3 separate regions of the Homo sapiens genome follow, and regions 2 and 3 are each reported to be linked to region 1. Evidence: microRNA targets listed by miRTarBase, many of them from high-throughput screens and not tested one by one. Region 1 holds a microRNA gene; each other region holds the end of a gene's coding sequence.

Region 1 (3,248 bases):
CCCTCTCTCCAGAGCAGCAGGAAATGTTGCAAGCATTCTCTACCCAGTCTGGCATGAACCTCGAGTGGTCCCAGAAGTGAGTGCGGGGCATGTGTAGGATGGGGATGCACTGAAGTAGGGCTAGTAGTAAATAATGAGGGCTCCTGACAGTTTTTTTGTTTTTTTTTTGGAGACAAGTTCTTGCGCTGTCATCCAGGCTGGAGTATAGTGGTGATCATAACTCACTGTAGCCTCTAATTCCTGGGCACAAGCTGTCCTCCCACCTCAGCCTCCAGAGTAGCTGGGCCTATAGGCATGTGCCACCTTATTTTATTTTATTATTTTTTTTTTTTGGAGGTGGAGTCTTGCTATGTTGCCCAGGCTGGAGTGCAGTGGTGCGATCTTGGCTCATTGTAACCTCTGCCTCCCGGGTTCAAGCAATTCTCCAATCTCAGCCTCCCGAGTAGCTGGGATTACAGGCACACACCACCATGCCTGGCTAATTTTTGTATTTTTTTTTTTTTTTTTTTTTTTTAGTAGAGACGGGCTTTCATCATGTTGGCCAGGCTGGTCTCGAACTCCTGACCTTGTGATCTGCCTACCTCGGCCTCCCAAAGTGCTGGGATTACAGGCATGAGGCACTGCACCCAGCCAAATTTTTATTTGCTTGTTTGTTTTGAGACAGGGTCTCACTCTGATGCCCAGGCTGGAGTACAGTGGTGTGATCACAGTTCACTGCAGCCTCAACTGCTAGGGCTCAGGTGATTCTCCCACCTCAGCCACCTGAGTAGCTGGGACTACAGGCATAGGCCACAGCACCTGGCTAATTTTTTTGTATTTCTTTGCAGAGATGGGGTTTCACCATGTTGCCCACCTAGGCCTCCCAAAGTGCTGCGGTTATAGGTGTGAGTTACTGTGCCTGGGCTCCTGAAATTTTAAAAGGCAAAACTTTTGGCTGCTTAAAAAAACCTAATAGTTGGCTGGGAGAGGTGGCTCACACCTGTAATCCCAGCACTTTGGGAGGCTGAGGCGGCCAGATCACGAGGTCAAGAGATCAAGACCATCCTGGACAACATGGTGAAATCTCGTCTCTACTAAAAATACAAAAATTAGCGGGGCTTGGCGTTCCACGCCTGTAGTCCCAACTACTCGGGAGGCTGAGGCAGGAGAATTGCTTGAACCTGGAAGGCGGAGGTTGCAGTGAGCCGAGATCACGCCACTGCACTCCAGCCTGGTGACAGAGCAAGACTCGGTCTCAAAAAAAAAAAAAAAGCAAACAGAAAAACACAAACCTGATAGTCTATAAAAAATTTGCCTGTGTATAAATTAACATAAAAAACTTTAAAGGTAAAATGGAAGTTCCTTTTCATATACTGTTCTGCAACTTAGTTTCTTTACTTACACCATGAACATCTTTCCCTACCACTGTAAAAACTATCTTGAGCTTCTTGACAGCTATTTAATATTCCTTATCTTTGAGAAGCCATTGGTAGAACATCTGGACTTTTACTAATGTCTCATTTGTATAAATAGTGCAAGGATGTATAAGAATGTACATATTTGTTGGCAAACTTGGGTGCTTTTATGGAGTGGACTTTCAGCTGGCATTTACGAGTCAGAGTTCTTACAGAGCTGCCTGTTCTTCCACTCCAGGTGCCTTCAGGACAACAACTGGGACTACACCAGATCTGCCCAGGCCTTCACTCATCTCAAGGTAAGGTCTGGAAATACAGTGGCAAAAAGACTAGGATCTCTGGGCCTCCAGGAGGTCAGGTTAGCTGAGTGGGGTTGCTGAGTGGCGAGGGTAGGCCTACCTCTACTGACCTTCATTTTTCTCCAGGCCAAGGGCGAGATCCCAGAAGTGGCATTCATGAAGTGATCGTAGTCATGCCTCAGAAGCAGTCCCCCCTGTAAATAGTCCTTGGATATTACCGTCTGGTTGTCGTCTGTCATCTCCTCCTGTCTGGCCCGAGGCCGCCCCGTGACTGTGACCGAGGGAGGGAGGGCTGCCTGATCCCTCTCCTCGCCTGCCTTCTGGAAGACTTCAGAAGATTGAGCCTCACTGGTGCCAGGAAGCCAAAGCTTACTTTGTAGAACTGACACTAAACTACCCGAAGGACTTAGGTGCTTTGTGTACTTAACCCCAGGACCTCCTTACTTTTTAATATAAAGAGTGATGTTGTATTTCGTGTTCTGCACTTTTTAATATAAAGAGTGATGTTGTATTTCGTGTTCTGCGTGCTGGATTGGTTGTCTCCTCCCAGCCCTGAGCGAGGGGGGCGGGCCCTCTAGCGGGGGCGCCCAGGGAGGGCGGAAGGCGGCTCTGCGGCAGGAAGCCCCACCCCGGAAGTCGGCTGGCCATGGCGGCGCCTTGGAGGCGATGGCCCACGGGGCTGCTAGCCGTGCTGCGGCCCCTGCTCACCTGCCGGCCCCTGCAAGGCACGACGCTGCAACGGGATGTGCTGCTCTTTGAGCATGATCGGGGCCGCTTCTTCACCATCCTCGGGCTGTTCTGCGCGGGCCAGGGCGTCTTCTGGGCTTCCATGGCTGTGGCAGCCGTGTCCCGGCCCCCGGTTCCGGTGCAGCCTCTGGATGCGGAGGTCCCAAATCGTGGCCCCTTCGACCTGCGCTCCGCGCTCTGGCGCTACGGTCTGGCCGTCGGCTGCGGCGCCATCGGTAAGACGTGGGCTGGCTTCCCACTGTGACAACGTGGGGTGGCGGGACACGACCTTCCCTATACAGGCAGGGAGAGTCAGGGACTCCCTATCCGAGAGTGGCGGGCGGGCTTTACCCCACAGAAATGTGAAACACTGGCCGGGCGCGGCGGCTCAAATGCTGGGAGGCCGGAGGCGGGCGGATCACTAGGTCAGGACATCCAGACCATCCTGGCTAACACCGTCAAACCCTGTGTCTACTAAAAATACAAAAAATTAGCTGGGCGTGGTAGCAAGCGCCTGTAGTCCCAGCTACTCGGGAGGCTGAGGCAGGAGAATCAATTGAACCTGGGAGGCGGAGGTTGCAGTGAGCCGAGATGACGCCACTGCACTCCAGCCTAAGCGACCGAGCGAGACTCCCCTCTCAAAAAAAAAAATTGGGAAACAGTGATGTCTCCGAGCGCCGTGCCCTGTCATAGCCTAGGCTGAGGGCTGCCCTTCACTCTGCGACCTTGAGCAAGGTCCTTAAAGCTCTCCATCTTCCCATTAAAATGGAAACGGACATCTATTAAGGTTGTTGGGAGGAATAACAAGATTACTGGGTATAACAGGAGC
Region 2 (3,248 bases), not on the chromosome of region 1:
GCTGAGCCATGGCCAGAGCAGGGCTCAGTCTGCCCCTGAACTTGCTGAATGGACCGACGAGCTGAGCCTGAAAGCCCAGAAGAGCCTCGGTCCAGAAGACGGAGACTCGGCCCGGTGTCCAGCGCAGCCCAGGGCTTCCTGGGGGGCAGCAGGAGTGCCTGGGGGTCACCGCCTTCAGGACAATGGCCTCAGTGGCTCTTTCTTTCTGCCCTGAACTGGCACCTGCACCTCCTCTGCTTCCTAGAGGGTGACCTGGGCCGAGCCGCCCAGTCCTTCTTCCCCTGAGGCCAGAGGGGACGCCCCGCGGCCACATCACACAGGATCCTCAGCAGCCATAGTCTCGCTTCAGGGTGTCCAGTGTTTCGAGGAGGAGAGGGGACAGGGGCCAGGTCCACTCCCTTGGCCCTCCTCTTGGACCCCAAGGCCAGGCCGGATCCTTTTATCCCGTGGGGAGCCCCTGCCTCGGCCATCGGGATGAGGTCCCTCAAGTCCCTGCACAAGCAGGTCAGAGACCCACCCACATGCCGTTCCTGGGCTACGCCACGCGCCATCCCCCGGGGCTGTGGACGCACCCAGCCCCCGACAGACAGGCGCCCTGAGAGCTCCGAAGGCGCGATCCCCATCCCCACCAGTGGAGAAGCCAGAACCGCGATTGTTGCATCTGGGAAAACCCAGCTGGAGCCGAACGGCCCGTGCCCCCACTGTAATTGTGCTGAAAATGTTTCTCAAATGACCCAAATTGGCTCTTATTTTTTCTAATGGCCCTTTCAAAGTATTCATGAAATTGATGCTGTGTCATAAAACAAAAATAAAAGATTTCACAGCAATGTCTGCTTCAGGCACACGGGGAACCACGCGTTTTAATCAACGTATCGATAAAAAACACCAGGGCACGGACACTCCAGGGGAAATGCTTATTGAGTAAAGTATCCGAGGAAGTGATGCAGGGCAGGTAAACAGCTGGTGCTCAGCAGCGAGAGGACGCGTCACTCTGCCGTTCTGCAGGGTGACGCCCTCCCCGTACCTCGCTGAGAGCCACCTGCAGACACAGCAGGCCACAGCAGAATGCACAGGTCACTGTTGTAGGGGAACAAATCGTAATGCCCAGAGAAAACCTGATAGTGAAATGTAAACAGACAGGACAGGGTGGTTCCAGGTGGCCACCACCGCCAGGCCCTTCCCGTGATTGATCTGAGAGCTTCACAGCCGGCGGCACTGGGACCCATTTCCAGAAACACTGGAACACCAGGTCTCTCAGATGCCCGCGGGAGGGGCCCCAGGGAGGCCTTTCTCAGCATCAGCTTTTGGGTGACAAACCCCATACAGCAAAACTGTACAAATACACACAACGGACCCCCAGCTGACAGTGAGACCAGGACCCTAGGAAGGTCAGGTGGTGGTGAAGTCATCCCCTCTCCAACCGAGCAGAGCCTGGGGTTGGGCTCTGATGACCTCCCGGGCAAAGTGTCCAGGTGGAGGAAGCAAACTCCCAAATGGGGCACAGAGGTAATAAAAAGCAGCTGAGAGACTGCGGGATGGGGTCGGGGCCACTTGGCCGACACCTTCTGCCTCGCCTGGCCGGGCCGGGCCAGCCTCTCGCCACAGGATGGAGGGTGACTGTGCACCCTGCTCCATGTACAGGACGGGCTGAGGGTCCCATGGCCACTGCCGACAGACACAGTAGTACTGCTCCCCACAGAAGCCCGCAGTCTGCACCCTCCTACAACATGATTTGACATCCAAGAAGCCCCTGTCACCAGCGCATCTGGGGAAGGGGCCGAATGGGGGTTGATGATGGTGACTGCACACACGGACACTGCCTCCAGCCATGGGGCAGCCTCTCATCCTCTCCCAGCCTCCCGTCTGGTACCCCGGCCCCCTCAGGGAAGAGGACATCCCATCCACTCCAGTGTTATTTCCAATCTGCTGTCTCCTTCCTTCACTTTTTTTTTTTTTTTTTTTTGAGATGGAGTCTCTGTCGCCCAGGCTGGAGTGCAGTGGCATGATCTCGGCTCACTGCAGCCTCCGCCTCCCGGGTTCAAACGATTCTCCTGCCTCAGCCTCCCGAGTAGCTGGGATTACAGGCACCCACCACCATGCCCAGCTAATTTTTTTTTTTTTGTATTTTTAGCAGAGATGGGGTTTCACCATGTTGGCCCGTCTGGTTTGAAACTCTTGACCTAGGTGATCTGCCCACCTCAGCCTCCCAAAGTGCTGGGATTACAGGCGTGAGCCACGGCGCCTGGCCTCCTTCCTTCACTTTTGAAATTAAAGCCTCTTTGCAAGTCCTGCTCTGAGAAATGGTCACTGCACATGGTAAAGAGGCCCTGAGCCCCATGGCCATCTCTCTTGGTGAGGGGTGGCGGGCCCGGGTGCTGTCTGAGATGCCAGCTCAGGAGGGCTCCATCCTGGCTCTGCTGCCCCAGGGCCGGCGTTCCCGGAGGGCTCCAGGTTCCCGGTTCTAGTCCTGGAAAGGCAGAAGGGAGAGGGGAAGGGAAGGGTGGGAGGGGCCTCTGGGAGGTGCAGCCCCACCCCATGCCCCACACCCCGGGACTCCTCGCAGACGGGGACACGTGTGGGAGTGTCCGCGGAGCTTCACATTTCAGGGCCGTCTCAGCCAGTGCCTCTGAAGTGGCCGCAGCCTTGGGGCCAGGTTCCCTCCTGAGTCCACCTGGGCCACATTGCTCCCACGGTGCACACTCCAGCACAAGAATGGCTCAGCCTTGATCCCCCAAACTGGGCACCGTCCCTGCATGTAGGTGTGTGGGGGGGCCTCAGCAGCAGACGGGGCCATGGGCCTCTGGTGGGGCACTCGGCTCCTGCTCCTGGGACGAGCTCCGGGGGGCCCTGGTGGCATTGGCCCGGACAGAGATATGGTCCCAGCCTCCCTGGAAGGAGAGAGCTGTGTCACCAGGGGACTCGGGGACTCGAGGATCCTGGAGGGGATCTGCCTGGGGGCCTCCCTGCAACCCAGACACCGGGTCCCAGGGGACAGTCCCACAGTGGTCGTCCCGTCTTCAGCACCCAGTGCAGGCACAAGGTGATAACACAGCCCAAGGCCGCGGGCCCCGCTCACCCCGATGCCGTAGTCCCAGCCGTGGCCCTTGGGCTCGTGAGGCTGCACGCCGGTGCGATGACACACTGTCCCCCGGCTCAGGCTGTGGCTGCCCTGCACTTTGTTGGCGATCACCCAGACCTGGAGCACAGACCCCATGAAGCCCTCAGCCCTACCTGCAGTGGGACGGCTG
Region 3 (3,248 bases), not on the chromosome of region 1:
GGTTTATCTTTTCTCTCCCAAGTGCTGAGCTTGCAAGACCTCTGCTGCCGGGCGGTCGTGTCCTGCACGCCGGTGCACCTGGTGGACAAGCTCCCGCTCCCCATTGCCTTAAGAAGCCACCTCAAGTCCTTCTCGATGGCCAACGGCCTGAATGCCAGGATGATGCACGGCGGTTCCTACTCCCTCACCACCAGCTCCACCCACAAAAGGAGCAGCCTCCGCAAAGTGAAGCTCGTCCGCCCCCCCCAGAGCCCCCCCAAAAACTGCACCAGAAACAGCTGCAAAATTTCTTAAGGAAGGCACTGAAAGAAACACGGCGGAATCTCTCCAGGAGAAGCTCGGCGTTACCCCCGGCAGCTGGTGGATGCATCTCAGATCCCGGTTCCTCTCGGCGAATGCTGCTTGCGAATGTGTGCGACGCCTTCCGTGTGATGGAAACACACTACCCCGTCGGACTTCGAATTTCTACGTGGATGTGCATGAAGCTCTTGTTTTCGATGTGTGTTTGTAAAGGGAAAATTAGTACTCTGCTCGACTCTTGGTAACATGAAATTCTGAATGTTACTTTATCATGATTGCACTGCAACTTTTTCCTTAAAATAACTGCTTTTGTAAGAACGGTGATATTGGAGTGATTAGTATAAATTCAATGGAATTTGAGAAGCAATGGCAGCGGGATAATTTAGAGTCACTGATATTACGAGAGGGGTCTTTTTGTAAACCTCCTTTTCAATGTCAAAGCGCCAATTTATAAAACGCTGCAGATGTAGAGGTTATGTGCAACTGATCTGTCCAGTTTGTGTATGAAATGGATTTGATAAAGTTTTTGCTAGTTATTTACTACATTTTGGGATTAATAAGTGATTTATATGCATATTTTTCTGTAAATCTACAGTTTTTTGTACAAGATATTCTACAAGTTATGAAGCTAAGGGAAGAAAATGCCAAAGATACCTCTAGTTATGTTGAACACAGCCAGCACAGTTTCGACATGTCAAGGAAGAGCTGTTTCAGTAAAGAATGAAGTGAAAACACTTATTTAGGAAAATGTTTCTCAACAATAAAATGTATAGTTGTTTCTCTCTTGGTAGAGTTGGCGACCGGTTCTTTCGAATTTTGTATTTATTTATTTATTTATTTTTGAGACAGAGTTTCGCTCTTGTTGCCCAGGGTGGAGTACAATGGCACGATCTGGGCTCACCACAACCTCCGCCTCCCGGGTTCAAGCGATTCTCCTGCCTCAGCCTCCCGAGTAGCTGGGATTACAGAGGTGCACCACCACGCCCGGCTAATTTTTGTATTTTTAGTAGAGATGGGGTTTCACCATGTTGGTCAGGCTGGTGTTGAACTCCTAACCTCAGGTGATCCACCCACCTTGGCCTCCCAAAGTGCTGGGATTACAGGCGTGAGCCACTGCGCCCGGCCAGATTTTGTGTATTTCTTATAGCCCTTTACTTCACTGCGCCACTGCCTGGTGTAGACATCACATATCGGAGCTAATACACGACACTGGCAACAAGGCTGAATCCTTGAACTGTTGTCGCCTGTTGAGAAAGGATTCCTTTTCCGGAACAGAAGTGCAGAGGAGGAGAGAGCGGAGAGTTAAAAGCTGGCACCCAGGCATGTGCCTGTCTGAGAAATCAGAGCCGTGCTCCTGAGCCTCGGTGAGGAGCTCCGAGGGGCTGTCAGGAATTCCGCATGAAGATGTAGCCCCTGACCCCGACTGCCTCAGAGCAGGGCTGACCGCAAAGACCTCCAGGGCCGCTCTCTTCCCTGGTCACACTGTTGAACGTTTCTCTGTGGCTGGGGGTCGCAAATGAGGGACTAAACCAAAAAAACGAAGCGAGAAAATACCCAGATGTTCCTAGTTCCTGCTGATGATCTGTAGATTCTTAGAAACTTAAGGGACCCAGCTGGGTGTGATGGCTCACACCTGTAATCCCAGCACTTCAGGAGGCCGAGGCAGCCGGATCAGAGGTCAGGAGTTCAAGACCAGTCTGGCCAACGTGATGAAACCCCGTCTCTAATAAAATTACAAAAATTGGCTTGGCATGGCAGCGCACACCTGTAATCCCAGCTACTCAGGAGGCTGAAGCAGGAGAATCACTTGAACCTGGGAGGCAGGGGTTGCAGTGAGCCGAGATCGTACCACTGCACCCCAGCCTGGGCGACAAGTGAAACTCCATCTAAAAAAAAAAAAAAAAAAGAAATTTAAGGGACCCTAGAATCAGGGGCAAAGCCTGTATTCAGAGATGGTGGAACCGAGGCCCAGACAGGAGAGAGGAGCACTGGTCCCTGCGGGTGGACCCAGGCTTGGGGGTGTCTGGCCACCTGGGCACGGCAGCCACGGGGACAAAGTCCACGGGGAGGCAGGGGTGTGGTCTGTGGGCAGAAGGTGAACCCTGAGGGGACAGTGTCTGGAGAGGGTGGCCAGCCTCGTGCAGGCACGCTGCAAAGACCTGTGCACCCTTCTCTCTGCTGTGCCACAGGTGGGGTGAGAACGACAGGGCCGACCTCCCAGCTGCAAACACAAGGACACTGAGATGCACAGAAAGGAGAGTCCACGTTGAAGAAACCCACGTTGAGGGGCCTCTTCTCCCTCCGTTCCCAGCTCGCTGATGGTGAAGGGTAAGGAAATGGATCCTCCCATTGCAACATTAAACCAGGCCAAACCTGTATTTTTCTCTTCCTTCCTTTTTCTTGTTTTGTAATTGATGTCTCCTCGGGACTACTGATAATGTCCTAGAAAGAATAAAATAAAGTTTCCCAAGGCTTTGTGACTCAGAGCTCTTTGGAGGTGTTCACCGAATGCACGGGCCGCCCGGAGGCCTTGGCCCTCCAGGGAAACACCACCAGAAGTCCCCAGAAGCGGAACATGTAGCAAGGAGGCTCCCCGAGATCTCCCAGAGGGAGCACAGCCCTGCCAAGTTATTGGTTTTGGACTTCCGGCTTCCAGAGCTACGAGAAAATAAATATTTGTTATTTAAGTCACCAGGTTTGTGGCGATTGTTACGGCAGCCTCAGGAAACTCCTACAAGGAAGTGAGTTACGCTCACGGCAGAAAGTGCTACAGCAAACCAAGGCAGAACAAAAACAGACGAAACCTAATACAGACCGGACTAAGTAGAAGACTGTGTGTTTGGGTGGTGAATATACAAAAAACATAAATATAAATTAAACCTTAGAGAAACTTTGTCATTTTCTTGTCATGTTCAGAGGTGTGGCCTGTTGCTTTAGATCTACAGATT

What was found. The annotated mature microRNA hsa-miR-6514-5p reads UAUGGAGUGGACUUUCAGCUGGC and lies in region 1 at 1,563-1,585, shown strand. An mRNA with a match to its seed (bases 2 to 7 or 8) in the 3' UTR can be bound and repressed. Matches are read on the target gene's strand: a 7mer-m8 pairs with bases 2 to 8, a 7mer-A1 pairs with bases 2 to 7 and ends in A, and an 8mer does both.
Region 2: miRTarBase lists TECPR1 as a target of hsa-miR-6514-5p. Seed matches in the 3' UTR shown: 7mer-m8 at 1,967-1,973.
Region 3: miRTarBase lists RAB40B as a target of hsa-miR-6514-5p. Seed matches in the 3' UTR shown: 7mer-m8 at 2,180-2,186.

Annotation. Positions count from the first base shown.
Region 1 is chr11:62,791,086-62,794,333 of GRCh38, reverse strand. MIR6514 (microRNA 6514) reads left to right here and starts at 1,563; the gene lies at 1,563-1,632. It overlaps TMEM223 (transmembrane protein 223), which reads left to right and starts at 2,328. Exons shown (of 2, transcript NM_001080501.3): 1 at 2,328-2,655. The coding sequence starts at 2,340. NXF1 (nuclear RNA export factor 1) reads left to right here. Exons shown (of 21, transcript NM_006362.5): 19 at 1-76; 20 at 1,633-1,693; 21 at 1,820-2,204. The coding sequence ends at 1,858. RefSeq lists a silencer at 2,199-2,348 and an enhancer at 2,419-2,928.
Region 2 is chr7:98,214,616-98,217,863 of GRCh38, forward strand. TECPR1 (tectonin beta-propeller repeat containing 1) reads right to left here. Exons shown (of 26, transcript NM_015395.3): 25 at 3,077-3,196; 26 at 9-2,888. The coding sequence ends at 2,775. It overlaps BHLHA15 (basic helix-loop-helix family member a15), which reads left to right. Exons shown (of 2, transcript NM_177455.4): 2 at 1-842. Among named protein-coding and RNA genes, the nearest start is that of BHLHA15, 4.8 kb to the left of the region's middle.
Region 3 is chr17:82,654,909-82,658,156 of GRCh38, reverse strand. It overlaps RAB40B (RAB40B, member RAS oncogene family), which reads left to right. Exons shown (of 6, transcript NM_006822.3): 6 at 23-3,184. The coding sequence ends at 294. Among named protein-coding and RNA genes, the nearest start is that of WDR45B, 8.1 kb to the right of the region's middle.